Homo sapiens: one gene and its partners. The protein of the gene in region 4 interacts with the protein of the main gene of each other region in a biochemical or structural test. Each region holds a gene or a part of one and is shown on either strand. Other genes may lie near its edges. The genes, in order: RPTOR, MAP2, ODF2 and MARK4.

Region 1 (7,024 bases), on a different chromosome or scaffold from region 4:
TCTTGGCTCACTGCAACCTCTGCTGCCCGAATTCAAGCAACTCTCCTGCCTCAGCCTCCCAAGTAGCTGGGATTACAGGCACCTGTCACCATGCCCGGAGGAGCCAGTTTTACTAGGCAGGTACAGACTCAATGTCTAAACCAGCCAGGTCAGGACAAGAAAAGTCACAGCCCAACCCACTCGTGAATGCCAATGGGGAGCGCCCAAAGAAATAGCTGGTGAGCGTAAGGCAGCGATGTCAGGGGACATTACCACGCTGGGTGCCCCCAGAAATGCAAGGATATTTCACAAGAAATTCAATCATGTAATTCCCTACCCTAACAAACAGCCATGCACAGGGTCATTCTGAGATGCAGAAAATACATTCAAAGAAATTAATTCCATTTATCAGGAAAATTCTTAACTAACTAGAATAGAATGGGAATTTGCACTCATAAAAAGAGTGAACCAAAGGGAAGGGAATTTCTATAAACTGATATAGAGCACCCACTCAAAAAATCTACAGCAAATGTCGTATCAAAGGTAAAAGGTTAGAAAGGTTTCGTTTACTCTCAAGAGAGAAACACAGATGTCCACTGCCATTCTTTTTTTTTTTTTTGAGATGGAGTCTTGCTCTGTTGCCAGGCTGGAGTGCAGTGGTGTGATCTCCGCTCACTGCAACCTCCGCCTCCCCGGTTCAAGTGATTCTCCTCCAGTAGCTGGGACTACAGGTGCGCACCACCACACCTGGCTAATTTTTTTATAGTAGAGACAGGGTTTCACCATGTTGGCCGGGATGGTCTTGATCTCCTGACCTCGTGATCCGCCCGTCTCGGCCTCCGCCTCCCAAAGTGCTGGGATTACAGGCGTGAGGGACCGTGCCCAGCCCACTGGCATTCTTTCTTTTTTTGCCAGCAACAGGTTTTAAAAAAGATATTACTTAAAATTACAAAAACTGAAAGGTAACGTCATGCCTGTGACCTTTATGCAGAAAGTTAGACTGTCTTGAAGACATAAAGAAGACTTAAGTAAATGGAAAGATACACCCTGTTCAGGAGCAGGAAGACTCATGATGCAAGGAAGTCAGTCATCCCAGGGAAATCCACCAATTCAGCGCCATTCAAACAACACCCCAGTGAGGCTGCTGTCGACACAGAAAGCCTGACTGTGAAATGTATACAGCAGAGCAAAGGGCTAAGAGCGGCCAAGACAGTTCTGAGAAACGAACTGAGGAGCGGGCTCAAAGGTGCTGCCCCCGCAGCTGTGGTGTGACGGCGCGGCCGTGTGGGGTGTCGGCGCGGCTGTGTGGGGTGTCGGCGCGGCCGTGGGGTGCCGGGGTGGCTATGCGGGGTGTCGGTGCGGCCGTGGGGTGTGTCGGTGCGGCCGTGGGATGTGTCGGTGCGGCCGTGTGGGGTGTCGGCATGGCCGTGGGGTGTTGGCGAGGCCGTGTGGGGTGTTGCTGCGGCCGTGGGGTGTCAGCGAGGCCGCGTGGGGTGTCGGGGCGGCTGTGTGGGGTGTCGGCGCGGCCGTGGATGGGATGGGTGCTGCTAAGAATGGAGCCCCCACTCAGACCCTAAGGACTGATGGCCAGGGAGACGCTGAGAAGCACTGGCGGGAGGACGGGCTGTCTGATGAAGGGTCTGGGGTGGCATAAAGAAAAAATACAACCTGGATCCCCACCTCACCACAGAGACAAAATGTGGTTCAGGATATACTTAAGACATGAACACAAAAAAGGAAAATTTTAAATCTTGGAAGAAAATGTAGGAGAATATGTTTAGGACATTGAGAATAGGAAAAACAAGACACAAAAGGCCCAAGTTATAAAGAAAAAGAGAAACTAAAAGATTAAGCTTGTGTGGCACCAAAGGCATCATAAAAAGTCATAGATTAGATGCATTTTCGATGGATATATTCAGCCAGGAATCAGCACCCAGAACTGTGATGAATGCTGATTACAAACTACTCAGAGAAAGATAAACGACACAAGGCGAGTCTGTAAGGCTGCAAGGCTGTAACCTCACTGCAATCAAGGCAGATGCAAATTCATGCCACAAGGAGACACCAGGTGTGTCTATCAGACAGACAAAGGCTGGCCAAGACCGGCGTGGTAGAGAGTGGCGAGATGGGGGCGCCTGCGCTTTAGAACAGAGGATCCCGTGGAAGGCCTGGGGCGACATCTACAAAAGCTGAAGGTGCAGGCACCGTTCACGCAGCAGCTTCACTCTGAGGCAAGGTGGCGAGAGGCACTCACGTGTATCCACGCTGAAGAACACGCACCACACACGTGCCCGTTTATGTGTATTGAGCACCTACTGCGTACCAGGCACTGGGTGTGGACAGGGTGGGAGGAGACAGTGGTTAACAAGGCTGGGTTCCTGCACGTGCGGCTCTCAAGCTCCAGGGGAGAGAGATGGGCCGGGCCAATGAACAAGTTACACGTACAGCACGTCTGCAGTCCACAGTCCTCAGGAGAAAAATAAAGCAGGAAAAGGGAGCAGGGTCAGAGGGCAGCTGGGGAAGCCTGATTCCAGGTGGGGCGTGGGGCTGGGGAGGCTTCTGGGAAGGTGCTGCCAGATGGGGGCTCTGAATGAGAGGGGAGCGGCCACCATATGCCGGAGAAGAGCTTCCCCACCGATGCCCAGGCTGGGGGCCGGGTAGGCTGGGGCCCAGCAGAGCTGGGTGCAGCGAGTGAGGGTGTGTTGGATGTGGGGCTCCATGGTGGCAGGGGCTGAATTCTGAGTTTGCTTATTAAGAAAAGGAACAAAAGGCAAGAAGAAACTAGAACCGGCCTCACTGTCCCCAGACAGGAGAATGGATAATGGAGTCACGGCAGATCGCGGAGGTGAAGGAACAAAACCTAGATGACCATCAAAGATACATATTGAAGTCAGAGCCAAAGAAACGGGCTTTGCGGGCCACGCATCGTGCGACGGCGCCAATAGGAGGTAAAGGCCTCTAAGTGGGCACCACGTGTGTGCCAGGGCTCATGGCCAGGGAGGGAAAGTGTAATGTCACCAGAGGGAATGGGACCGGGGTAGGGTCTGGGGCTCGACCTCTGTAATTCCTTAAGCTGGGAACACAACACACACACACACACACGCAGCGCTCTTATATAAGTCTCTGTAAATTTTTACATGGCTAAAATGCTCCTTAACATGAAAAAAATTCAAATGAAGCCGGTAAGCCACTCTGGATAGTCAGAACAAGAGGAGATGAGGCTCATTTGGTTAAGCCCTAAATCTGTTACCAGCAGTGTGAAGATGAACATAGCTACACAATAAGAAAACACGGTGAATTCCTGCTTCTCCTGTTTTACAACAGCAATCCTGGTGGTAGGACCCAGGCACACACCATTCATGGCAGAACAAGAGAAGAATCTGACCCTTCCGTCAGATTTCCATTTCCAGGCAGTGCTGCGTCAAGCTGCTGGGATGGAGGGAAAGTTGTGTGGAGATTCCGCAGGTGAGCAGGGCGGGGATGACAGCCCCCAGCCCGACCGCAGGGCCCTCCGCCTCTCACTGCGGACACTGTGTGGGGGCTGTCCTGGGCACCAGGGGATGTGAGCAGCTTCCTGGCCTCACCCACTGGGACAAGGAGCACCCCTACTGTACCCCAGTTGCTCGTGGGGGGCAAAACCACCCCCGGCTGAGAACCACCGTTCTGCATCACCAGGGTGTCCAGCACCATGAAGAACTCTCACCCGTCTATGGAACAAAGATGGAAGGTTCTGGCAGCCTTCCCACCCAGCCAAACTGGCCAGCTCCGATGGCTCCGGAGCAGCCTGTAAAATACTACCCCAACACAACAGTGATGTCAACTTTCCCGCTTGCCCCAGCAAAACGTTCTCCCTGCCTCGCAGTCCTGTTGACCTTTATTCTTTCTTTTGAACAGACAGTTTTGACACCCACTGACCTGATGCAGACACAGGTCTGTGCTGCTCTGTGTGGGGAGGAGACCCTCGGGGCCCCTCGGAAGCAGAAAGGGGCAGGCGGACTCACCGATGAGGGAGTTGAGGGAGGAGTAGGAGCTGGCGCGGCGCATCTTGTCGATGGTCTCGAAGGACAGGATATGCTCCTCATTCTCGGGGCTGCCCAGGGTGCTGCTGGCGCTGCTGCTGGTGCTGAGGTTTCCGGGGGAGAACGCCACCGCGCCACCAGCTGCCCGAGACGCAACGGGGTCAGTGGGGTGCTCCCGGGACCCTCCTTTTGGTCTTACAGTTAATGGCATGACTGAGATACATATTTTCTTCTAAATAAAGCTCAGCACACCCAGGCACAAACACACCCTGGTACACACACACCCTGGTGCGCACACACCCTGGCATGTACACACACCCGACATACACACACCCTCATACACACACACCCTGGCGCACACACCCTGGCGCGTACAGACACAACCTGGCGCGTATACACACCCAGTACACACACCCTGGCACACACACACCCTTGTACACACACACACACACCCTGGCATGCACACACCCTTGTGCACACACACCCAGCACACACACACCCTGGCGCACACACACCTGGCGCGCGCACACACCTGGCGCACACACACACCCGGCGCACACACACCCTGGTACACACGCACCCTGGCGCACACACCCTGGCACACACGCCCCGGCGCACACACAGGCACAGGCACTCACTGATCTCCCTGGGAGCCAAGCTCCCCACCCGCAGACCACAGGTTACTGGGAGACGGGGGCAGGGCACAGCCCTCCAAGGAGCCACCGCCTCAACTGCGGCTGCGCTTGAGCTCCCTGCCGCATTGGTAACGGGCCCGCTGGCTATTCTGGGGGCTGGCCTACGCCTCCTTGCCATGCTCACGTCTGGAAGGGTGACTCATCACCATGTTGGCAGATGGGACTTCAGGGCACGCACTTAGACGAAGGGGCAGGGGCAGAGTGGTGCTTACTCAGATACAGTGTTTCAGAAAAAACAACCCCAATCTCTCCCAATCCAATAACCCGATTTCCAGGATCTTACATTCCTCTGTCAAACTCAGGTTCTGCAAAGATTTGTTGAGGCTCCTGGCTGTGGCGACAGCACGGATGTTTCCATAGGAGCTCACAGAACGAAGTCTGGGGGTGCACGGGCTGTCTCGCACTGGGGTCAAACTCCCTCCCTCTGGGAAAGAAGGAGAAAGACAAATTACAATGGGCTTCCAGGTGGAGGCCAGCGTGTCTTCTGACACTCAGCAGCTGGGACACTCGGTGACGGCAGCTGCTACCTGTGCTGCAACAAATGTCAGAGCAGGGGCTGCACAGCTCAGGGAGACTCAGACGTGAGCGGAGGCTCTGCGGGATAGCACTGGACAAACAACAACCGCTTGTGGCTCTGTGCATATTAAATTACAAAAGACAACAGGGGAGAGGCTGGTGGCTGCGGCCTGTCCGAGTGCACACGAGGTGCATGGTGACGTGGGCCGTGAGCCGTGCTCCCCGGGAAGCCGCAGCAGAGCAATGACCGTCCACACTCAGTCTGGCTCACCCTTCTCCCCTCCTGGGCTTCCTAGAAGCAGTGAGGCCTCACTGCTGATGACAAGCCCCTGCACGGCAGAGACGGCTGTGTGGAAGCGGGAGGGGCTGCCGGCAGCGATGAGATAGGAACTGTACTCTCCAGTCAAAACGACACGTGTGAGAAAGCACGCCTGACATGACTCACCGAGCCACGGAGCCAAGAGCAGTGTGATGAAATTACTCATCGCAGGAAGACGGCCCCTGCGCTTTTCCGCAAGCTCCTACTGCAGAAGTTTTGTCATACTTCAAGGTCTCTGTGAGTTTAATTTCCAAAAAGGGTAAAAAGAAAGGAAAAATGTAAGAGGGTCAGTGTGGCCCTCTTTCCTGCCCTTTTAAATCTGGCAGGTGCCTAAAAAGATGAGAAAAACAGGGACCCCTTGCGGCAGGTATCTGAGAAACCTGCGCTTAGACTCTGCGAGGGTGAGCAAGACTGGGCCGCGGCCTGCACTAGAACCGCCAGGCGAGGTGCTCTGCGGGTTCACAGGAGAAGACGCCATACCTGTGGTTGCTGGAGAAGGCAAGGCGTAGTTCTTTTCCTCTTCTATGAACTGCAGGGCCACGGTGCAGAAATTGCTTTCATACTGAACCACAAGATGACTCAGAGCCACCACCAGCTCCTGCCGAGAGGGAGAAGGGACAATAACAGTCACTGGGGCTGGAAAATGATTGTGGAGCAGCAGTGAGACTTGAGTCACCAACAGAAAAAAGAAAGGTTAAGACAAAACCGTGCAATTGGCATCAGAAACAGGGACCATCCCTTTTCGAACCGTCAGAGCAGAGGCCTTGGAATAGCAGAGTGCTGGGAGACGGCAGGCCACTGGCTCACGGGGGAAGCCCAGAATGCCTGCCAGAATCCTCCCCACTGCTAGAGGCGCACGACGCATCGGGGGTCTCGTAAGGACACGGTGAGTCACAGGACTCCAGAGAGGGAAAGGTAGGAGGCCTCACAGCCTCTCGCTTACGGTGACCACTGGGACCCTGGCTGAAAACGCCGCTCTAGATCACACCCGATGGCTGGCGGCCTTTCTGAATCTGAGCGCCCCAGGGCCGAGTGCAGCGGACAAGCCGAAGCCTGCTCTTTTCAACACATGTGAAACTTTCATTGGTAGATGTTTCTAGTCCCTAAGAGGGAACGGGAAAAGTTGTAGAACTAAAACATCATCTTTAGGACCAAATGCCTTGGTCCAAGGGAACAGACACAATTTGCCTCTCTTTTAGGACAGTTCAGTGCTGTGACAGGAACAGCTGGAGATCCTAGAAGTCACTGGGGAACAGAAGGGGGATGTAGGTTTAAAAAGCGGAAAGAACGTTTTTTTCCCTACGACAACTTTTTCTGCCTTTTTTTTTTCTGAAAAGAAAAAATACGGATTCTTAGCAGAAAGCCAAGCGCTGTGAGAGGACCCCTTGCTAGTCGCGTGACGCCCCTGTCTCCACAGCGGCTGGATGAGCAGGCTCTGGATGGGCGCCCACCAGGGACCAGGGTCTTCTCGTGGCCACCCCACTCTCCGTCTACGC
Region 2 (7,024 bases), on a different chromosome or scaffold from region 4:
CCTGGCCCTCTGACTCCCATGAGGGAAAAAGATGTATTTGATGATATCCCAAAATGGGAAGGGAAACAGTTTGATTCTCCCATGCCAAGTCCCTTTCAAGGGGGAAGCTTCACTCTTCCTTTAGATGTCATGAAGAATGAAATAGTTACAGAAACATCGCCCTTTGCCCCTGCCTTTTTACAGCCAGATGACAAAAAATCTCTGCAACAAACCAGTGGCCCAGCTACTGCCAAAGATAGTTTTAAAATTGAAGAGCCCCATGAGGCTAAACCTGACAAAATGGCAGAAGCACCACCCTCAGAGGCAATGACCTTACCCAAAGATGCTCACATTCCAGTTGTAGAAGAACATGTTATGGGGAAAGTTTTAGAGGAAGAAAAGGAGGCCATAAATCAAGAGACTGTGCAGCAAAGGGATACTTTCACCCCCAGTGGACAGGAACCTATACTTACTGAAAAGGAAACTGAGCTGAAGCTTGAAGAAAAAACCACCATTTCTGACAAAGAAGCTGTGCCAAAAGAGAGTAAACCCCCAAAACCTGCAGATGAAGAAATAGGCATAATTCAGACCTCCACAGAGCACACTTTCTCAGAACAGAAAGACCAAGAGCCTACCACAGATATGTTGAAACAGGACTCGTTCCCTGTAAGTTTGGAGCAAGCAGTTACAGATTCAGCCATGACCTCTAAAACACTGGAGAAAGCCATGACCGAACCATCTGCATTAATTGAAAAGAGCTCAATTCAGGAACTTTTTGAAATGAGAGTTGATGACAAAGATAAGATTGAAGGAGTTGGAGCTGCAACATCAGCTGAGCTTGATATGCCATTTTATGAAGATAAATCAGGAATGTCCAAGTACTTTGAAACATCTGCCTTGAAAGAAGAAGCAACAAAAAGCATTGAGCCAGGCAGTGATTACTATGAACTGAGTGACACTAGAGAAAGTGTCCATGAGTCTATTGATACCATGTCTCCCATGCATAAAAATGGTGACAAGGAGTTTCAAACAGGAAAAGAATCCCAGCCCAGTCCTCCAGCACAAGAAGCAGGGTACAGCACTCTCGCACAGAGTTATCCATCAGATTTACCTGAAGAACCCAGTTCTCCTCAAGAAAGAATGTTCACTATTGATCCAAAAGTGTATGGAGAGAAAAGGGACCTCCACAGTAAGAATAAGGATGATTTGACCCTTAGCAGGAGTTTAGGACTTGGTGGTAGGTCTGCAATAGAACAAAGAAGCATGTCAATCAATTTGCCGATGTCTTGCCTAGATTCCATAGCCCTTGGATTTAACTTTGGTCGGGGACATGATCTTTCTCCTCTGGCTTCCGATATTCTAACCAACACTAGTGGAAGTATGGATGAAGGGGATGATTACCTTCCAGCCACCACACCTGCACTGGAGAAAGCCCCTTGCTTCCCTGTAGAAAGCAAAGAGGAAGAACAGATAGAGAAAGTAAAAGCTACTGGAGAAGAAAGTACTCAAGCGGAGATATCATGTGAGTCTCCTTTCCTAGCCAAAGATTTTTACAAAAATGGTACTGTCATGGCACCTGACCTTCCTGAAATGCTAGATCTGGCAGGCACAAGGTCAAGATTGGCTTCTGTGAGTGCAGATGCTGAGGTTGCCAGGAGGAAATCAGTCCCATCAGAGACTGTGGTTGAGGATAGTCGTACTGGCTTGCCCCCGGTAACTGATGAAAACCATGTCATTGTAAAAACGGACAGTCAGCTCGAAGACCTGGGCTACTGTGTGTTCAATAAGTACACAGTCCCATTGCCATCACCTGTTCAAGACAGTGAGAATTTATCAGGGGAGAGTGGTACCTTTTACGAAGGCACTGATGATAAAGTTCGAAGAGATTTGGCCACAGACCTTTCACTGATTGAAGTGAAACTGGCAGCAGCCGGAAGAGTCAAAGATGAGTTCAGTGTTGACAAAGAAGCATCCGCGCATATCTCTGGTGACAAATCAGGACTGAGTAAGGAGTTTGACCAAGAGAAGAAAGCTAATGATAGGTTGGATACTGTACTAGAAAAGAGTGAAGAACATGCTGATTCAAAAGAACATGCCAAGAAAACTGAAGAGGCTGGTGATGAAATAGAAACATTCGGATTAGGAGTAACCTATGAGCAAGCTTTGGCCAAAGATTTGTCAATACCAACAGATGCATCCTCTGAGAAAGCAGAGAAGGGTCTTAGTTCAGTGCCAGAGATAGCTGAGGTAGAACCATCCAAAAAGGTGGAACAAGGTCTGGATTTTGCTGTCCAGGGTCAACTAGATGTTAAAATTAGTGACTTTGGACAGATGGCTTCAGGGCTAAACATAGATGATAGAAGGGCAACAGAGCTAAAACTTGAGGCTACACAGGACATGACCCCCTCATCCAAAGCACCGCAGGAGGCAGATGCATTTATGGGTGTTGAGTCTGGCCACATGAAAGAAGGCACTAAAGTTAGTGAGACAGAAGTCAAAGAGAAGGTGGCCAAGCCTGACTTGGTGCACCAGGAGGCTGTAGACAAGGAGGAGTCCTATGAATCTAGTGGTGAGCATGAAAGTCTCACCATGGAGTCCTTGAAAGCTGATGAGGGCAAGAAGGAAACATCTCCAGAATCATCTCTAATTCAAGATGAGATTGCCGTCAAATTGTCAGTGGAAATACCTTGCCCACCTGCTGTTTCAGAGGCTGATTTAGCCACAGATGAGAGAGCTGATGTCCAGATGGAATTTATTCAGGGGCCAAAAGAAGAAAGCAAAGAGACCCCAGATATATCCATCACGCCTTCTGATGTTGCAGAGCCATTGCATGAAACGATCGTATCTGAACCAGCAGAGATTCAGAGTGAGGAAGAAGAGATAGAAGCCCAGGGAGAATATGATAAACTGCTCTTCCGCTCAGACACCCTTCAGATAACTGACCTGGGTGTCTCAGGTGCCAGGGAGGAATTTGTGGAGACCTGCCCAAGTGAACACAAAGGAGTGATTGAGTCTGTTGTGACCATCGAGGATGATTTCATCACTGTAGTGCAAACCACAACTGATGAAGGGGAGTCAGGGTCCCACAGCGTGCGTTTTGCAGCCCTAGAGCAGCCTGAGGTGGAAAGGAGACCATCTCCTCATGATGAAGAAGAGTTTGAAGTAGAAGAGGCAGCTGAAGCCCAGGCAGAACCCAAAGATGGTTCCCCAGAGGCTCCAGCTTCCCCTGAGAGAGAAGAGGTTGCACTTTCTGAATATAAGACAGAAACCTATGACGATTACAAAGATGAGACCACCATTGACGACTCCATCATGGACGCTGACAGCCTCTGGGTGGACACTCAAGGTGTGCATTATTATTATTATTATTTTAACTCAAACACAATAACCTTATGGGAATTTTTTTTCACTTAAACATTTTAAAATACCTCTTTATCTCTTTATTTTGTATTTTGTTAAATATACAAAGGATTTTGTACACTTGTTACTAATGTTTTCACTGTTGTTGTTGTTGTCATGATTTGCTTTGATCCACAGATGATGATAGGAGCATCATGACAGAACAGTTAGAAACTATTCCTAAAGAGGAGAAAGCTGAAAAGGAAGCTCGGAGATCATCTCTTGAGAAACATAGAAAAGAAAAGCCTTTTAAAACCGGGAGAGGCAGAATTTCCACTCCTGAAAGAAAAGTAGCTAAAAAGGAACCTAGCACAGTCTCCAGAGATGAAGTGAGAAGGAAAAAAGGTTCATTTAACAATCACTTCTTTAAAAATGTTTTTGAAGTAATTCATTATTACTTTTTTGCAGAACTGCCTAACAGTGGTAACTAATTATTTATAAAATTTCGTTCGGTTTTGCTCCACGTGTTTATTTTTTCCTGATGGTATGCTTTTTGTGTTTTCTTATTCATAGCAGTTTATAAGAAGGCTGAACTTGCTAAAAAAACAGAAGTTCAGGCCCACTCTCCCTCCAGGAAATTCATTTTAAAACCTGCTATCAAATATACTAGACCAACTCATCTCTCCTGTGTTAAGCGGAAAACCACAGGTGACTGTTCAATTCTGCAATGTGACTGGCAAACATAGACATGTATTTTTTTTTTAAATCTCATTACTGTAGCAGCTTCTTCATTTTGTTTTTCTTCCAAGAATCTCAGCAGTCATGAACAATTTTGCTATTAAGTGTCTTGTATCATTATTCTTTTTTCCCCCCTCCTTACAGAAAAGGTCATGACCATCTGTTTCTTTGTCATGCTCAGACATAACAGTGCGTGATTGTATCTTGGCATTGTGCTCTAGTGTCACGTTCTGGGGATTCCTATTTTCATTCTGTGTGTTTGGTTAGACGATGGCGATGAATTTAACTGTGGTATGCATTCTCATTATTTTGCTTATTTATCTCTCTCATGCTTAAACCCATAAATATTTGTCCTATTTTCTACATTGTTACTGCCAAATCTGTTACTGATGTTGATGAATTTATTGAAAACCACCAAGAATGTGTAGTGATTTAGATACTGAAAATGAAAAGCAAGCCAGGAAGTGAAATTGTGGTTTGCAAAATTACTATTACTTTGCTTTTGCTGAAAAAAAGAAGATAGAAAACAAAATTTTCTGGTAATTATATCAGATTTTATTCCTCATATCCAAAATTAACAAGATTTTCACTCTACTGAACTACATCTCTTAGCTGACATTTTGTCATGGAGATTTCTTAAATATGTTGGATCCAAACTGCTCGACTTTTCTATATAATTTAGTTTCACAAATTTGAAGCTAAAACTCTTCCTTTTAGGAGGAACTTCAGTTAGAAATAAACTTCGGTTTATTTTTACTTTGCTGTCTACTTTTTTTTTGTTTCCCAAGACGGAATCTCGCTCTGTCGCCCAGGCTGGAGTGCAGTGGCACGACCTCGGCTCACTGAAACCTCCACCTCCTGGGTTCAAGCAGTTCTTCTGCCTCAGCCTCCGGAGTAGCTGGGATTACAGGCGTGCACCCAGCTAATTTTTTTTTTTTTTGTATTTTTAGTAGAGACGGGGTTTCACCATCTTGGCCAGGCTGGTTTTGAACTCCTGACCTCGTGATCCACCTGCCTCAGCCTCCCAAAGTGCTGGGATTACAGGCATGAGCCACTGCACCCGGCCTGCTATCTACTTATTACTCTTCTTCAAATACATATTTTTTCCTAAGTTTATAAAACTGGTAAAACAAAGGAATGAAACTTGTTGGAAACCATCATAAAAACCCCTACAAATATCTGTAATGCCAACTTTTTTCTAAATTTCAGGGCAAAGTATTTATTTTATATGTTTAATTATACTAGGATAATCTTACCTTACACTATATTTTATTTTAGCATTTATTAAGTGGCATGCTTGTAGTCTACAAAATGACAGATTGCTAAATCAGAAAAGAATGTTTTTCTTTCCATTGTACATCATCAATGCCTCTATATAAATCTTCGGATGGTTTTAAAGGTTAAGAGGAACATTAGCCTTTGTGAGAAAGAGAAAATCAAGGTAACTGATGGTTTTATTTTAGCCATTGAAAATTCCAAGTATTTTGTATTTGTGTTCTTCATCTAGAAATCATATCATGTGCTTTCCTTCAAAAACAAGAATCTAAGGCAGGATTTGAAAATAGAAGGCTTGTATATACGCACACCTTGATAAAGCTTCAGGATGAAGAATATATCTGAAGCTAGGAGTTAGGAATTAACGTGACATACCTCAATTCATTTTCTCAGGTTTTTAGCTTCATTAAACTTAGAACTTCATTAAACTTAATAGCAAATTAATAGCTTCATTAAACTTAGTAGCAAAATTGCTTGGGCAAGCAGAATCTCTTGATTTAGCATAAAAACTCTATAACCTACCTAAAAGGATGAAAGATGTCATCAGGATTGTGGAATTTTAGAGAAAACGTAAAATGGTTTAGTAAAGTGTTTACATGTCATTGGTATTCAATTTGCCACATTTAAAGTAAATTGTGTTTTTATTCATTCTTTGAAAGAAATTTAAAATCTTTGAACTAATGAAGATTTTCCTTTATTCTGGTCTAATGTTAAGATACTTTAGGAGAAAGCATGTATCAGATGTAGGTGTCATTGGTTTGAAGCAAGCTATACATGTCACAAGAATTTGAGTTATATTACAGAGATAGTAGTAAGGCATCGTTTTCACTGCTTCCTTAAAAACAATGAGTCCTAGAATCTGAAAAATCTCACTAGCTAGTCCTACATGGCATAAAGCATATTGTAGACAGTTATTATGTTTGTGTCAGAACTGTACCTGTCATAAAAATACCTTTTTAGAACTTATTCAGAGGGCTTATAAGGATACATTTTTTTTCTGAGGGTTTCTATTTTATGAATGAAAATTAAGGAGGAATAAACACACAAGCTTGATTATTTTATCTTCTAAGCCCAATTTTCAAACATAGATGGTTTTCCAAACCACAAGGGATTGTTTTAAATCATGAGAGCTAAGCTACCTCAGGTAAGTCATCAACCAAAATGTGCTAGAGATAATGGAGTTTAAAATTGAATCCAGAAGCATAAAACAGCAGCAAGAGAAACAACAGTAACAGATGTGGTAATAATTTCATACAGGAAGTGCATGTGTAGAACATGTTCTGTATTTACTGAACTTAAATTTTCTCTCGTGTTTTCTGTTCTTGACAAGCTATTTTTCTTCCCTTCTCATGTGGCATTTTCACATCAAACAAGTATGTCATTCATATTGTGAAATGAAGGGATACAAAGGGAAAGGGGTTAGCTGATCATGACAGTTTGAAATGTAAAATACCGAAATATCTATGGTTATGCCAGTGGCTTCCAGAACAAGAAGAGGGTTTGGAAATCTCTATGAACCCTCTTCTATATATCATGTGAACCCCAGAAACCAATCAGTGTTCTTTTTCTTAAATTTTGCAACATTCACATTGCTATTCTGTAACTTCTGTTCTAAAGGATCTCCTTACGTACTAGTGATTCAAAGATACATTGGTAATCAATAGAAAAATTACGTGGTGTGCTTACCTGCACT
Region 3 (7,024 bases), on a different chromosome or scaffold from region 4:
GCACACACCTGTGGTCCCAGCTACTGAGGAGGCTGAGGTGGGAGGATCACTTGAGTCCAGGATATCAAGGTTGCAGTGAGCTATGATCCATGATTACAACATGCACTCCAGCTTGGGTGACAGAGCTAGACTGTGTCTCTAAAAGAAATAAAAAGGTTAAAATGACAAGTTTTATGTTACATATATTTTACCACAATTTTTAAAAGTTAATAATGGAATATACCAAAGCCATTTAATTGTATACTTTATTTTTTCTTCTAGCTTTATTGAGGTATATTTGACAAACAGAAGTAGTATACATTTTAAGATGTTCATCGTGATGATTTGATACCCATATACATTGTAAAGTGACCACCTCAATCAAGCTGATTAACACATCCATCACGTCACATGGTTACCTTTTTGTGTGTGTGTGGTGACAACACTTAAGATCTCCTAGCAGATTTCAAGTATATAATACATCATTAATTATAGTCACCATGCTGTACACTTTAAATGGTGTTCAAATTTATATCTCAATAAAGCTGTTTTTAAAAATCAAGTAACAGCTGGGCATGGTGGCTCACGCCTGTAATCCCAGCACTTTGGGAGGCCAAGGCGGGCAGATCACCTGAGGTCAGGAGTTTGAGACCAGCCTGGCTAACATGGTGAAACCCTGTCTCTGCTAAAAATACAAAAATTAGCCGGGCGTGGTGGCAGTTATCTGTAATCCCAGCTACTCGGGAGGCTGAGGCAGGAGAATCGCTTGAACCTGGGAGGCAGAGGTTGCAGTGAGCCGAGATCGTGCCATCGCACTCCAGCCTGGGGGACAAGAGCGAGACTTCCTCTCTAAAAAATAAAAAAAATTAAAAAAAATTAACACATAAATACAATATGATATTATTTTCCTAAAGTTACACATGAATCCCTTTCCCCTTCCCCCAGAGACAAACAGTATTTCTCTTGATGCAGCAAAATGCTGTTTCATTACAGAGAAACAGTATTTCAATACAGTATTCTGTACAGTATTTTCAATACAGAGAAATACAGTATTTCTCTGTAGATGTAGAGAAAAAGGATGGGAAGGATACTCCTCAAACTAATAGCAGTAGGGTAGGGTTTGGAGGTGGGTACAGGAGGAACTGTAGCTTTATTAGCATTCACTATTTTATAGTGAGAATATATTCACATTACTTTTCAAATTAGAACTACAGTTTTTTGGGCCAGGTGTGGTGGCTCACACCTGTAATCCCAGCACTTGGGGAGGCCAAAGCAGGCAGATTGTTTGAACCCAGGAGTTCAAGACCAGCCTGGGCAAACAGGGAGACCCTCCAACTCTACAAATAATAATAATGTTTAAAAAGTTGGGCATGGTAGTGCATGCTTGTTGTTCCAGCTACTTTGGAGGCTGAGATGGGAGGATGGCTTGAGCCCAGAAGGACCAGGCTGCAGTGAGCCATGATTGCACCACTGCACTCCAGCCTGGGCAACAGAGTAAGACTCTAAAAAAAAAAAAAAATACAATTTTTGGAAAAGGTAAAGAATCAATAAAATGTAGACATCTGGGTTTATTGCTTAATGACTTGACTTTTTCCTTTGCCTTTCTTTGAAGGATTCTGAAAGACTAATGGAGCAACAAGGAGCACTGCTGAAACGGCTGGCGGAGGCCGACTCAGAGAAAGCGGTAACTAAGGCTGCCCTTGTCTACTCTAGTGGGTACAGGTGGCAAGAGCGTCGTTCCACTACAAAGTGTAGAGGTGCTTGGATCAAGGCAGGAGGGCTGGAGCATTTCGCTAGGTCTTAGTTTCACGATCTGTAAAATGGGCTGATGTCCTCCTGTCACGCTTGTTCTGATAGGCTTGTCTAGTTAGTTACTTGAGACCTTGAGCCACAAAGCTGGACACCAACATAGAGAGGGTAATGATGATGTTGGATTTGTAAATCATCCGTGTCTGTTAAAGCTGGATTTCCATCAAATTAGTATTATGGATTCAAAGCCATCAAAAAGTACACACCTTTGGACTCAGTAATCCTAATTCTAGGAATCTCTCCCAAAGCAGCATGTTCCAAAGTCTGTTCATGGAACCCTAAGTTCCTCAAGATGTTAATGAGTGCAAGAAACCGAAGGGGAGGTTCCATAGCCAGTTAAATTTGGGAAACCATAGGCTGGCCTGAACATGAAGTTCAACAGCTTCTTTCAAGACTTTTTTGGAGTGTCTGCTGTATTAATGCTTTTGTAAGTCTCCAAGAGAGGGGAGGGAGACGGAGGCCCAGTTTCCCAAGGTGTGGTCTGTGGCCTCTGATGCTTAGTTGAGGAAGGAGTGGAGATGCAGCAAGCTCGGCGATAATGCCTAAATGTGCATTCCCAGCTCAAGAACCCTTGTTAAGTTATGATATACATCAGTAACTTGAACCGTCAAGCAGCTCTTTCAAAAGACACAGAAGATTTAATCACATTATGGTAAACATGAGCTTTTAGGCTATGGAACGAAGTAGGCATATGACTTTTTTTTTTTAACGGTGCTGAGCATATGAGTTTCAATGTGCATTAACTGGTTATCTCTGCATGGGGGGTTACGGGGTTTCTTTGGAGGATTTTTTTGGTGTGTTCTCAATGTTTTCTACAGTTAACATTGCTGTTCTTAAATTGCAAAATAAATACATGTTCATTGTTTTAAAAAAATGTTTTAATGCATATGTTAGGTGCTTCCTACCAGAATCTCTGACATGGGCCAATGTATGTAGGACCTTGGGCCCCAGTGGCCAGGTACTCACAAATCTCTGTCCTCCCTGGGCCGGGCCTCTTTGCCCTTCCCAGGGGCACCTGACAGCCTGTGTTCTCTCCCAGCGCCTGCTGTTACTGCTGCAAGACAAGGACAAGGAGGTGGAAGAGCTCCTTCAGGAAATACAATGTGAGAAGGTAGTGTGCTTTTTTTTTTTTTTTTTTTAGACGGAGTCTCGCTCTGTCGCCAGGCTGGAGTGCAATGGCGCGATCTCAGCTCGCTGCAACCTCTGCCTCCCGGATTTGAGTGATTCTCCTGCCTCAGCCTCCCGAGTAGCTGGGACTACAGGCGTGCGCCACCACGCCCAGCTAATTTTTGTATTTTTAGTAGAGACGGGGTTTCACCATGTTGGCCAGGATGGTCTTGATCTCTTGACCTCGTGATCTGCCTGCCTCGGCCTCCCAAAGTGCTGGATTACAGGCATGAGCCACTGCGCCCAGCCGCAGTTGTGCATTTTTATGAGCCAGTAGAATATAATGGATATGCAGAGAGCTGGGTTCAAATCCTGTCTTTGGGCCGGGTGCAGTAGCTCATGTCTGGCACTTTTTCGAGACCAGCCTAGGCCACTCCCTAGCACTTTGGGAGGCCAATGCAGGAGGACTCATTGAGGCCAGGAGTTTGAGACTGTCCTGGGCAACACAGGGAGACCCCATCTCTACAAAATTAAAATTAAAATTAAAAAATCAGCCAGGTGTGGTGGCATGCACCTGTAGTTCCAGCTACTCTGGATGCTGAGATGGGAGGATCACTTGAGCCTGGGAGACTGAGGCTGCAATGAGTCATGGTCACGCCACTGCACTCCAGCCTTGGCAACAGTGATACCCTGTCTCAAAAAAAAAAAAAAAAATTATTGACCATGCGCGGTGGCTCACGCCTGTAATCCCAGCACTTTGGGAGGCCGAGGCAGGTGGATCACTTGAGGTCAGGAGATCGAGACCAGTCTGGCCAACATGGTGAAACCCTGTCTCTACTAAAAATACAAAAAACTAGCCGGTTTTGATGGCACGTGACTGTAACCCCAGCTACTCAGGAGGCTGAGGCGGGAGAATCGCTGGAGCCCAAGAGGTGGAGGTTGCAGTGAGCTGAGATTGCGCCACTGCACTCCAGCCTGGGAAACGGAGCAAGACTCCGTATGAAAAAAACAAACAAAAAATTGTGCCTCCATCACTTTTTCCGTCTCTCCACAGGCTCAAGCAAAGACAGCCTCTGAGCTTTCTAAATCCATGGAGTCCATGCGTGGGCATTTGCAGGCACAGCTTCGGTCCAAAGAGGCTGAGAACAGTCGCCTGTGCATGCAGATTAAGGTACCTATTGGCCCCACAAGTGGGGAAAGAGGAGGCAAGGGCCTGCCAATTTGATGGTAGCGGCCTGGCCCAGATATCACACTCAGGAAGTGTGCCTCCAAAGGTTTCTGAGGCAGCTGATGACAAAATACTCAGGCCTCAGAGACATTCCAGGACAGTGGCAAGAGCAATGGACAGAGACCCAGGAGGTGTTGGGCATCCTTCCCAACAGTGACGGGGTTGCGTGCCATGCCCCCCAGGCCTATCACTTAATCCCCTAGGCCCTCAGTTCTCCTCATTACCCAAGGGAAAGGGATGGTCTCTTTGTAGCCCAGGGGTCCTCTGAGGTCATACTCTGCTGAGTGACCAAGGAACTATCTCTGACCACAAGGCTGGGAGTTCAGGGAAGGATTCCAGAGCAGTTCTGACCTAATATCAAGACCCCATGGGCTGAGAGATCCAGGGAGGTGTCGTGGGGAGCTGGGAGGGACTGTGTCTCTGGTCCGAGTTAGGGGAGCCTCTCACACAGCTAAGCACTTTTTTCTGTCTTCCTCGTTTCCTCTTTGCTCTTGCCTTTTCCTCCCTTTCTCCTTCACCCTCTGCTTTGCCTTCCCACAACCTCCTTGTCTCTCTTCTCCCTCTCTTTCTCACCCCTTCCCCCTTCCAGAATCTGGAGCGCAGCGGGAATCAGCATAAGGCAGAAGTGGAGGCCATCATGGAGCAGCTGAAGGAGTTGAAGCAGAAGGGAGACCGAGACAAAGAGAGCTTGAAGAAGGCCATCCGAGCCCAGAAGGAGCGAGCCGAGAAGAGCGAGGAGTATGCTGAGCAGCTACACGTGCAACTCGCTGACAAGGTCGCAGGCCCGCGGTGCCCAGCTCCTCACCTGCCCTGAGGAGGGCTGGGTGATGGCAGAGGGGTGGTCAGCCAGATGGGTAGCGGGGAGGGGTGGGTGGATGAGGGATGGTAGTGGTGGAAAGGATAGATGGCTGGGGAGGAGGGAGAGGGAGTTAAGGGGATCAAATGGGTAAAAGCTGGAGGGATGGGTGGCTGGAGATGATTGGAGGCTTTGTAGGAGAGTTCAGCCACATCAGCTTTGTGGGTGAGAATAATGGTTAAGGAAGGATTTACAAACAGGATGCATTTGATTGCTAGAAATCTGGGAGCACTAGCTGGGCTCCCACTGTTGCTTCCAGCGCCCTCTAGAAAGGTGAATTCCAGAATGAGGTTTAGGTTACCAGGGTGAGAAACCACCTAGGATGAGCCCGCTCCCAGCTCCTGGCAGCCTCACCACTGACACTAGGCTAACAGGCCCTTTTGTCCCGTGTTCCCAGGATCTTTATGTCGCTGAAGCTTTATCCACTCTGGAATCCTGGAGGAGCCGCTACAACCAAGTTGTAAAAGAAAAGGGAGACCTTGAGCTGGAAATTATTGTCCTGAATGAGTACGTCTTAGAGTAGGAGAGGGAATGTGGCGCTGTTGAGGGACTTGGGTGTGCAGGTGGGAGGGGCCTAGTGGCTCAGGGAAGGCCACGTGGCTGCTGTTTGTACTCTCCGGGTTGGGGGCTGCACTGGGCTGTGATGTGGGTAGCCCTGAGCTGGGCTTTCTGGTTGGAGCTGGGGTGCAAGCTCTGGCCCTAGTCCTGGGGTCCTACCCTACTGTCAGGCACTGGCTAGGGGCCGGGTCTTTCTGGTCAGAGGTGTGGGTCTGACTTCATCACCTGGGCCTGATCCTGTCCTCAGTCTACACAGCATTTGAAATGGGCACCGTGGTGTCCTCATTCCTATTGGGGAATGGGGCAGATGGTGACCCGAGTGTCTTCTCTCTGTTGTCTGTCCAGGGACAGCAGCTGTTTGCCAGTGCCTGCCAGTCAGTAGGTCAGTGGTATGGCATGGGAGTAGGGGGCAAAAGTGGCCTCAATTTGCAAGTGACTGAGCTGACACCTTTCTTGCCACTGGCGAACTGTGAATAGTGACCATTCCATCATTCTCCTTTTTTCCTTCATTTATTGGAAAAACATATATTGAGCATCTACCATATACCAAGCTGCTGTGTGCTGGCCACCAGGGTTACAGCAGTAAGAAGACAAATGCATTCCCTGCCCTCTACTCTGTAGAGGAGATAGGGCTACAAGAGGCATGGACTCCCTGGACTAAGGATAGGTCATGGGGGAGCTCATTTAATCTCCCAGGTCAGGAAAGTCTCTTACTGTATTCAACTCAACTTAGCAAACATGTTCTGAGAACTCACTATGTGCCAGGCTCTATGCCAGCTGCTGTCCTTAGGGAGTTCTCTGTCTAGTGGGAGAACATAGATACCTAAGACAGAAGCATACATGGTACAGGGGAGGGGTCAGGGACAAGATGTCTTGAAGTCTGAACTGGGTTTTTAAGTGTGAGTAGGAGTTTGCCAGGTAAACTGGAGTTGCCAGCAAACTGATATGTTTGCTTGGGCCTAGTCAGTGTTCAGTGGTGGACTGTAATTGGTCAATACTGAGAGCACATATTGTGCAAAGGGTTTTTGATGGGTCTGTGGTCAAGATAGAGGAGTAAGCACCTGTGAGCCCCAGGGCTCCTCTTGAGGCCACAGTCTCTGCTCTTTGACTGATGATGGCCTTGCTGAGTGACTGAGGCAGCAGCAGGGAGCAGAAGGGACTGGGGGTGGGGCAGGCAGCTGGCTTCTAAGTTGGCGTCTTTCTATTTGTGCCTTTTTCCCACACCACACTCATTGCCGTTCCTGCCTGTGTTAGGTGAGTGTTCATATGTGAATGAGCAATCATGGCACCAGCCCCCTGCTGGGGGTACAAAAGCCCAGGGTGCTCAGGGCCCTGCTGGAGAGGAATGCCTGGGTGATAATCCCTGACCACCAGCCTGGGAGTCCAAGAAGGGATTCCAGAAGCGTCTGTCCTAACACCAAGACCTGATAGGCAGAGAGATTCCAGGAGGTGTCATAGGGAGTTGGGAAGGGATCATGTCTCTGGTC
Region 4 (7,024 bases):
TAATAACTTAAAAACCGTAGGTGACAGCGGCAGCTCCTCAAGAGACCTTTGCAGAGGGGAGGGTGTGGGGTATTTACAAGGATTTGTACAAAGTGCCCCGCGCCAGCCTGGGGCAGGAAGTGGGGGTTTGAGCGTGAGGGGACGGGAGGGGAAGGAATCTGCCTCTCTGACCCCCACTCCCAGTCCCCCAGATTCTCCAGTCTTTAGGCTCAGCAGCTCTCCCTGCCCCTGCCCAAGGCCTAATTTTGAGCTGTTGGGAGGAATGGAAGATTTCCTCAGTTTCCCTCCCTGCCCCTGCCCTGTCCCCAAAGTCTCCTCAGGTGCCCTCTTGGTAGGGCGAGGGAGGACAGGACTGGCTGGAGGCTCCAGGAAGGTGCCAGCTCCCCCCGCTGAGCCCCCTCATCCTTCTTCTGTGCTGAGCGGCCCCAGAGAACAGCAGAGGGGACAATCTTTGCCCCCAAATATAATTCAGGGAAACTGAGGTGATGATAAAGGGAGAATCCCCTCCCTGGCCCCTTCCCCTCCTGTAGAAGTGAAGGCGACAAGGGAGAGGAAGAGTAAGGGCCCTGGGACCGTGGTGGCTCAGAGCTCGAGGTCGTTGGAGATGCGGGTGACGAGGGTGCGGAAGGCCAGGGCGGTGCCCGCCACACGGCGGAAGAGAACTCCCCGCAAGCCTGGCCGGGGCAGCTGGCAGACCTCCACTTCGAAGTGGGACAGGGGCTCGGGCCCGCCCGCACCCCCGTGCAGGCAGGCCAGCAGGAACGGCTGTGGCTGGCGGCAGCGGCAGCGGGCGGCTGCTGTGGCCTGGCGCAGAGCTGCCATCAGGGCCTCAGGAGGGCGCGAGCTGGTCAGCTTCACACTCCAGGGGAATCGGAGCAGCCGGGGGGCGGTTTCCGTTTGATCCCAAGGTAGATGGCAACTGAGGCGAGAAGATGTCAGGGGTCAGAGATGGGAGCGAAGAGGAATGTGGTGGAGGGCTGAAGGGACAACTCTTCCCAATTCGGGACACATTCCTAGCCATCCCCTCAAAAAACATCTTCCCCTGTTACCCCAGCGACAGTTTCAACTGGATACAGAGCTGCCCAGCTAGAGACCACACTTTCCAGCCTCCCTTGCAACCAGGTGTGACCTTGTCTGTAAATTCTGGGACATGAGCAGAAGTGAGATGTGCCATCCACATCAGTTCCTTCAAAGAACCTGCATGTGCCAGGCTCTCCTGTCCCACATCTCCCAGGAGCTGGACTTAGCAGTGGCACAGGCCAGCCTCAACTGTGAAGATGACAAGGGCTCCAGGGAATCGGGATGCAATAACCTGGGGACCTGAATGACCGCATAGATCACAGTGGCCTTACCAGCCTGGCTTGGCCACATGGTTTGAATGTTTGAATGAGAAATTTCTTTTTCCTTTTCTTTTTTTTTTTTTTTTTGAGACGGAGTTTTGCTCTTGTTACCCAGGCTGGAGTGCAATGGAACGATCTCGGCTCACCACAACCTCCGCCTCCTGGGTTGAAGCGATTCTCCTGCCATAGCCTCCTGAGTAGTTGGGATTACAGGCACGCGCCACCACGCCTGGCCCCAGCTAATTTTTGTATTTTTAGTAGAGACACGGTTTCACCGTGTCAGCCAGGATGGTCTCGATCTCCTGACCTTGTGATCTGCCCGCCTCGACCTCCCAAAGTGCTGGGATTACAGGTGTGAGCCACTGCGCCCGGCTTTTTTTTTTTTTTTTTTTTTTGAGACAGAGTTTCGCTCTTGTCGCCCAGGCTGGAAGGCAATGACACAATCTTGGCCCACTGCAACCTCTGCTTCCCGGGTTCAAGCAATTCTCCTGCCTCAGCTTCCCAAGTAGCTGGGAGAACAGGCACCACGGCCAGCTAATTTTTGTATTTTTAGTAGAGACGGAGTCTCACCATGTTGGGCAGGCAGGTCTTAAACTCCCGGCCTCAGGTGATCCACCTGCCTTGGCCTCCCAAAGTGCTGGGATTACAGGCGAGAGCCACAGTGCCCGGCCACTTCTTAGTTTTTTTGAGACAGGGTCTTGCAATGCAGTAGTGCAATCACAGCTCACTGCAGCCTCGACCTCCTGGGCTCAAGTGATCCTCCTGCCTTGGCCTCCTGAGTTGTTGGAATTACAGGCATAAGCCACTGTGCTCGGCCTCTGGGGGCTTTTTGATTGTCACATGTCTTAGGATGGGAGCACTGCTGGCACTGACTAGGTTGGGGATGGGGTAGGTCAGGAATGAAAAACATTCTCCAATGTGCAAGAGGGCCCTGCACAACAAAGAAACGTCCCGCCTGAAGTACGAGAGTGCTGCTCTACATGAGCATCCCAGGACTAGCCTCCCTTGTTCCGGTGGGGCCGCCCCTCAGCTTGGGTGAGCACGACTCAGCTCTGCCAATGATAGCATTCTACTTCCCGGCCACTGTGCTTGGGTCAAGGGTGACCACATGACCAGGTCTGACCAACCAGAGTACTTCTCCTCTCTGGCTGCAGGCATTGGTTTAGGAATGAGCATGTGACCAAGTCCCAACCAATGAGAGTCAGCCCTGGCAGTTTGTTGCAGCTGCTGGGAAGGCTCCGGTTTCCACTTGGGTCTCTAAACCGGGAACTCAGACAAAACCAGGGCTTGGCAAACTCCAGTGCTGTCTGCTTTTGTAAATAAAGTTTCATTGGAACACTGCCATACCCATTTGTTTTGTGTTGAATATGACTGCTTTTGCACTACAATGGCACAACTGAACAGGCGTGACACAGGGTGCCTGGCCCTCAAAGCCTAAAATCTTCATGATCTGGGTCCGTACAGATGTTTGCCTCCTGCTGGCCCTGAGCTGCCAGCAAACATTGTGCCATGACTGGATGAGAGGCAAAAGGAGGTGGGGGCATTGACCAGAAGAGGAGTTGAGTTGTGGATGGGATGAGGCTTTTTTTTTTTTTTTTTTTTTTTTTTCAGACGGAGTTTCACTCTTGCTACCCAGGCTGGAGTGCGATGGCACAATCCAGCTCACCGCAACCTCTGCCTCCCGGGTTCAAGCGATTCTCCTGCCTCAGCCTCCCGAGTAGTTGGGATTACAGGCATGCGCCACTACGCCCGGCTAATTTTTGTATTTTTAGTAACGACGGGGTTTCTCCATCTTAGGCTGGTCTCAAACTCCCGACCTCAGGTGATCTGCCTCCCTTGGACTCCCAAAGTGCTGGGATTACAGGCTTGGGCCATGGCACCCAGCCGGAGGCTGAAGTTTAAGATGATCAAGGGAAGGTGCTTGGGGTTGGGTGGGAATGAGAGGAGCTGGCAGAGAAGGCTGGGGCCACAGGGCATTTCAGGAAGTTGGCCTTGCAGGATGAGACTGGGGCCCCATCTAATGCCCTGGGGTAAGTGTCGGGAGGTGCTGAGGCAGGAGAGGGGAAGTGGCAGTCAGGGGTAGGCCCAAGCACTCACCTTGTGACCTCAGGTCCCCCGATTCTCTCAGGTTCGTCTGCGACCCTAGGGGAGGGGAGGGGGACAGAGTGTCTAATCTGGACATAGGGAACCCACCTCCCGCAACCCACTGCCTCTGGGACTCCAAGCAGCCCCTGCCTCAACCCCAGTCCCTCCGGGCTGGTGAGGGCCTGGAGTCAGGATTTGATCTCCTTGTCCATCCCCATAACGGGGCTCATTCTGAAATGGTTAGTGCAGGTCACAGGAAAGATACTGAAGAATGTGGAAGATGAAAGGGAGGGGAGTGGGCAGAGACACACCCTTACATAGATAAGTGGCCACAGAGAGAAAGAGAGAGACACACGCACGTGTGCACACACACACACTCCCTCGCTCACATATACATTCATGCTTTGCTCAAACAACACCTCCTTCGTGAGGCCTGCCCTTTTTTCTTTTTTTGAGACAGAGTCTCACTCTGTCATGCAGGAGTGGCGTGATCTCAGCTCGCTGCAGCCTCAACCTCCCAGGCTCAAGCAATCTTCCTGCCTTGGCCCCTGAAGTAGCTGGGACTACAGGCGCGTGCCACATCTGCTTTTTGTTTTTTGTTTTGTTTTGTAGAGATGGGGCTTTGCCACATTGCCCAGGCTGGTCTCAAACTCCTGGACTCAAGTCATCTGTCCAAAGTGCTGGGATTGCTGGCCTGAGCCACCTCATCCAGAGGCCTGCCCATTTAATGCTGCACCCCATCCCTTCCCCACACCCCTTATTCCCCTCCCTGTTCAATTTTTTTTTTTTTTTTTTTTTTTTTTAGAGACAGGTTCTCCCTCTGTTGCCAAGACTGATGATCATAGCTCACAGCAGCCTTGACCTCCTGCGTTCAAGTGATCCTCCTGCCTCGGCCTCCCAATTCCATGGGAATACAGGTGCAGTCACCACGCCCGGCCAATTTATTTACTTTTTTGTAGAGATAGGATCTTGCTACGTTGTCCAGGCTGGTCTTGAACTTCTGGGCTCAAGTGATCCCCTCGCCTCAGCCTCCCAAAGTGCTGTGATTACAAGCATAAGCCACCAAATTTGGCTCCTACTCTATTTTTCTTCTTAGTTACTTCGCACTACCTAGCAGTCTATATAGTAAGTATATTTTACTTATTTCTTTGTTTTTTGTCTAGATCCCTTAGTAGAATGTTGGGTCTGCCAGGGCAGGAGTTTTGTACATTTTGCTCACCCTCTACTACAGGGCCTAGGACAGTGCCAGGCACACAGTAGGGGCTCAATGAATAATAGCAATTAATAACTAATACACATGTAAAGCACTTTCCAAGGCAATGTTCTACGCTCAGTCCATACGTCACTTCATTTAGTCCTCACAATAACCCTAGGAGACAGGTATTGTTATTACTATACCCATTTTACAGAAGAGGAAAACCAGGCCCAGAGACCTTGAGTGACTTGCTCAAGGTCACTTGGCAGAGCTGCCATTTGAACCCCCGAGTCTGGCTCCATAGGCTGTGCTTCTGTGAGTAAATGAACAACCAGACCCCACGCACAGACCCTCACATCCACAGAGCCCCCTCCCAATGCCCGCACACACAGGTCAGACATGCAGGCAGGGAGGCAGAGCCAGCGAGAACAGGGCATGGACGGGACTTACTGATCTTGGATCCCTGGGGCAGAGAGGCGCCCGAAACACAGCGGTTAGAGTTCTGCCGTTTAGAGGGATCGAGGGTAACCCTGCAGTGTGAGGAGGGAGGTGAGGGGTGACAGGGGAGGAGGAAAGGAGGAGGAGGAGGAGGAAACGAGGAGGAGGAGGAGGAGGAAGAGGAAATGTTGGGGTACAGGAGACAGAGCAGAGTGGAAGACAGGTTAGGTCCCATCGGCCCCCCGCCCCGCCCTGCCCCTGCCATCCCCGCGGAGCTCACCTTCGGGTCAGTTTGGAGGTCAGCTTGGTGAAGAGGTTGGTGGTGGGGCGGGGCCGCCCGGCGGGCAGGGGTGCAGCCTCATGGGCCAGTGTGGGAGAGGCAGGGGGCCCATTCTGCACACCCCCACCACCCCCACCCCCTGCCCGCCGGTCCCGGACCTGGCCACCATGGAAGGTGCTGCGGATGGTGGAACCACGTGCCAGGCGGCTCCGCTCCCCTGATGGGGGTGCCAGGCTGTGACTGGAGGGGGAGGCAGGGGGCACCCGTGGGGTGCCTGAGCTGTGGGCAGAGACAGACAAGTCAGGGTGGGGGACTGAGGCAGGCCAGGGCCCCAGTCCCTTTGATTCTTCACATTCCTGTCCTGAGACCAGGGACTGCAACCAGCCTGGAACTCAGAGACAGGGCTGCAACGTACAGTTGTGCAGGCTGTGCACTATACAATCCTAGCATTATTTTACTGACTCTCTCCTCTCCTATTACCCCTCCTTCAAACTGTCCCTTCTTCAAACTCTACCCGCTCCAAATCATCTCCTATCACAACTCTCCTCTCTCTAAACGCAGCAACTGAATAGATGCACAGACATTTTTGGGTGACTTCCTTGCTATTTGCCGAAACCTCAGGAACCAAATCAACTTGGCAAACACTTTGCTATCTGAACTCTCACCATCTAAAATCAGGAAAGGGATAGATGTAAAGGTCAAGGATACCTGTATTCACTATGGTAATCTGGGCAGTGGGGGTTCCACTGTCCCAGGACCCTCCTCCAGCCCCTCGGACCCTCCTAGTCGACAGCAGGGGCCAGACCTCCATCTCCTGAGTTCAATTCTCCTGCCTCACCCTCCTGAGTAGCTGGGATTACAAGCGTGTGCCACCATGCCTGGCTAATTTTTTTTTTTTTTTTTTTTGAGACAGAGTCTCACTCTGTCACCTAGGCTGAAGGGCCATGGGGCAATCTTGGCTACTGCAACCTCTGCCTCCTGGGTTCAAGTGATTCTCCTGCCTCAGCCTCCTGAGTAGCTGGGACTATAGGCATGCAGCACCACGCCTGGGTAGTTTATGTATTTTCAGGAGAGATGGGGTTTCACCATGTTGGCCAGGCTGGTCTCAAACTCCTCACCTCAGGTGATCCACTGGCCTTGGCCTCCCAAAGTGCTGGGATTCCAGGTGTGAGCCACTGCGCCCAGCCCAGACCTCCAATTTCTATCCTCCCAGGGACTCCAGGCCCAGCCTGGATCTCAGAGAAGAATCCTGATTGTGGCAGAGGCTGTTACTTCTCCCTTAGAATCCATCCTCCCTGTTTCGTTCTTGGTAACCAAACCCCTAAGAGTATGAGCACTGCACATGGCCACCCAGCCAGAGACTACATTTCCCAGACTCTCTTGCAGCTAGAGATGGTTATGTGACCATGCTCCGGCCAATGGGATATAAGCAGAAGTGCTCTGTACCATCTCTGGGTGACGCCTTTACAAAGAGTTGTTGCTTGTCCCCTACTCTTTCCCCACTTCTTCCTGATTGGGAAATGATGGCTGCTGGTGCAGCGGCCTCAGTCCCAGAGCTGGAAACTCATTTTGGGGCTGGAAGAACTTACCTGGGTCCTTGGAGGACCCTCCGGACTAAACGTCCTTTTTATTTAAATTACTCTACCCTGGGATCTCTTTGTTTTTATTACAGCAGCTAGCTGAGTC

Evidence for each region.
Region 1: of the proteins of MARK4 (region 4) and RPTOR, one has a biochemical effect on the other in vitro, tested with the Homo sapiens proteins (one study listed by BioGRID).
Region 2: of the proteins of MARK4 (region 4) and MAP2, one has a biochemical effect on the other in vitro, tested with the Homo sapiens proteins (one study listed by BioGRID).
Region 3: of the proteins of MARK4 (region 4) and ODF2, one has a biochemical effect on the other in vitro, tested with the Homo sapiens proteins (one study listed by BioGRID).

The regions. Positions count from the first base shown.
Region 1 is NC_000017.11:80,890,822-80,897,845, reverse strand, and holds part of RPTOR (regulatory-associated protein of mTOR), read right to left. Parts: exon of another isoform or gene 6,127-7,024; coding exon 6,009-6,126; exon of another isoform or gene 5,675-6,008; intron 5,118-5,674; coding exon 4,977-5,117; intron 4,140-4,976; coding exon 3,981-4,139; intron 1-3,980. UniProt on the Homo sapiens protein: Component of the mechanistic target of rapamycin complex 1 (mTORC1), an evolutionarily conserved central nutrient sensor that stimulates anabolic reactions and macromolecule biosynthesis to promote cellular biomass generation and growth.
Region 2 is NC_000002.12:209,693,026-209,700,049, forward strand, and holds part of MAP2 (microtubule-associated protein 2), read left to right. Parts: coding exon 1-3,325; intron 3,326-3,516; coding exon 3,517-3,723; intron 3,724-3,891; coding exon 3,892-4,026; intron 4,027-7,024. UniProt on the Homo sapiens protein: The exact function of MAP2 is unknown but MAPs may stabilize the microtubules against depolymerization. They also seem to have a stiffening effect on microtubules.
Region 3 is NC_000009.12:128,479,989-128,487,012, forward strand, and holds part of ODF2 (outer dense fiber protein 2), read left to right. Parts: intron 1-224; exon of another isoform or gene 225-828; intron 829-1,591; coding exon 1,592-1,663; intron 1,664-2,827; coding exon 2,828-2,899; intron 2,900-3,949; coding exon 3,950-4,066; intron 4,067-4,712; coding exon 4,713-4,898; intron 4,899-5,376; coding exon 5,377-5,486; intron 5,487-7,024. UniProt on the Homo sapiens protein: Seems to be a major component of sperm tail outer dense fibers (ODF).
Region 4 is NC_000019.10:45,296,269-45,303,292, reverse strand, and holds part of MARK4 (MAP/microtubule affinity-regulating kinase 4), read right to left. Parts: intron 5,618-7,024; coding exon 5,339-5,617; intron 5,151-5,338; coding exon of another isoform or gene 5,071-5,150; intron 3,483-5,070; coding exon 3,438-3,482; intron 920-3,437; coding exon 583-919; 3' UTR 1-582. UniProt on the Homo sapiens protein: Serine/threonine-protein kinase. Phosphorylates the microtubule-associated protein MAPT/TAU. Also phosphorylates the microtubule-associated proteins MAP2 and MAP4.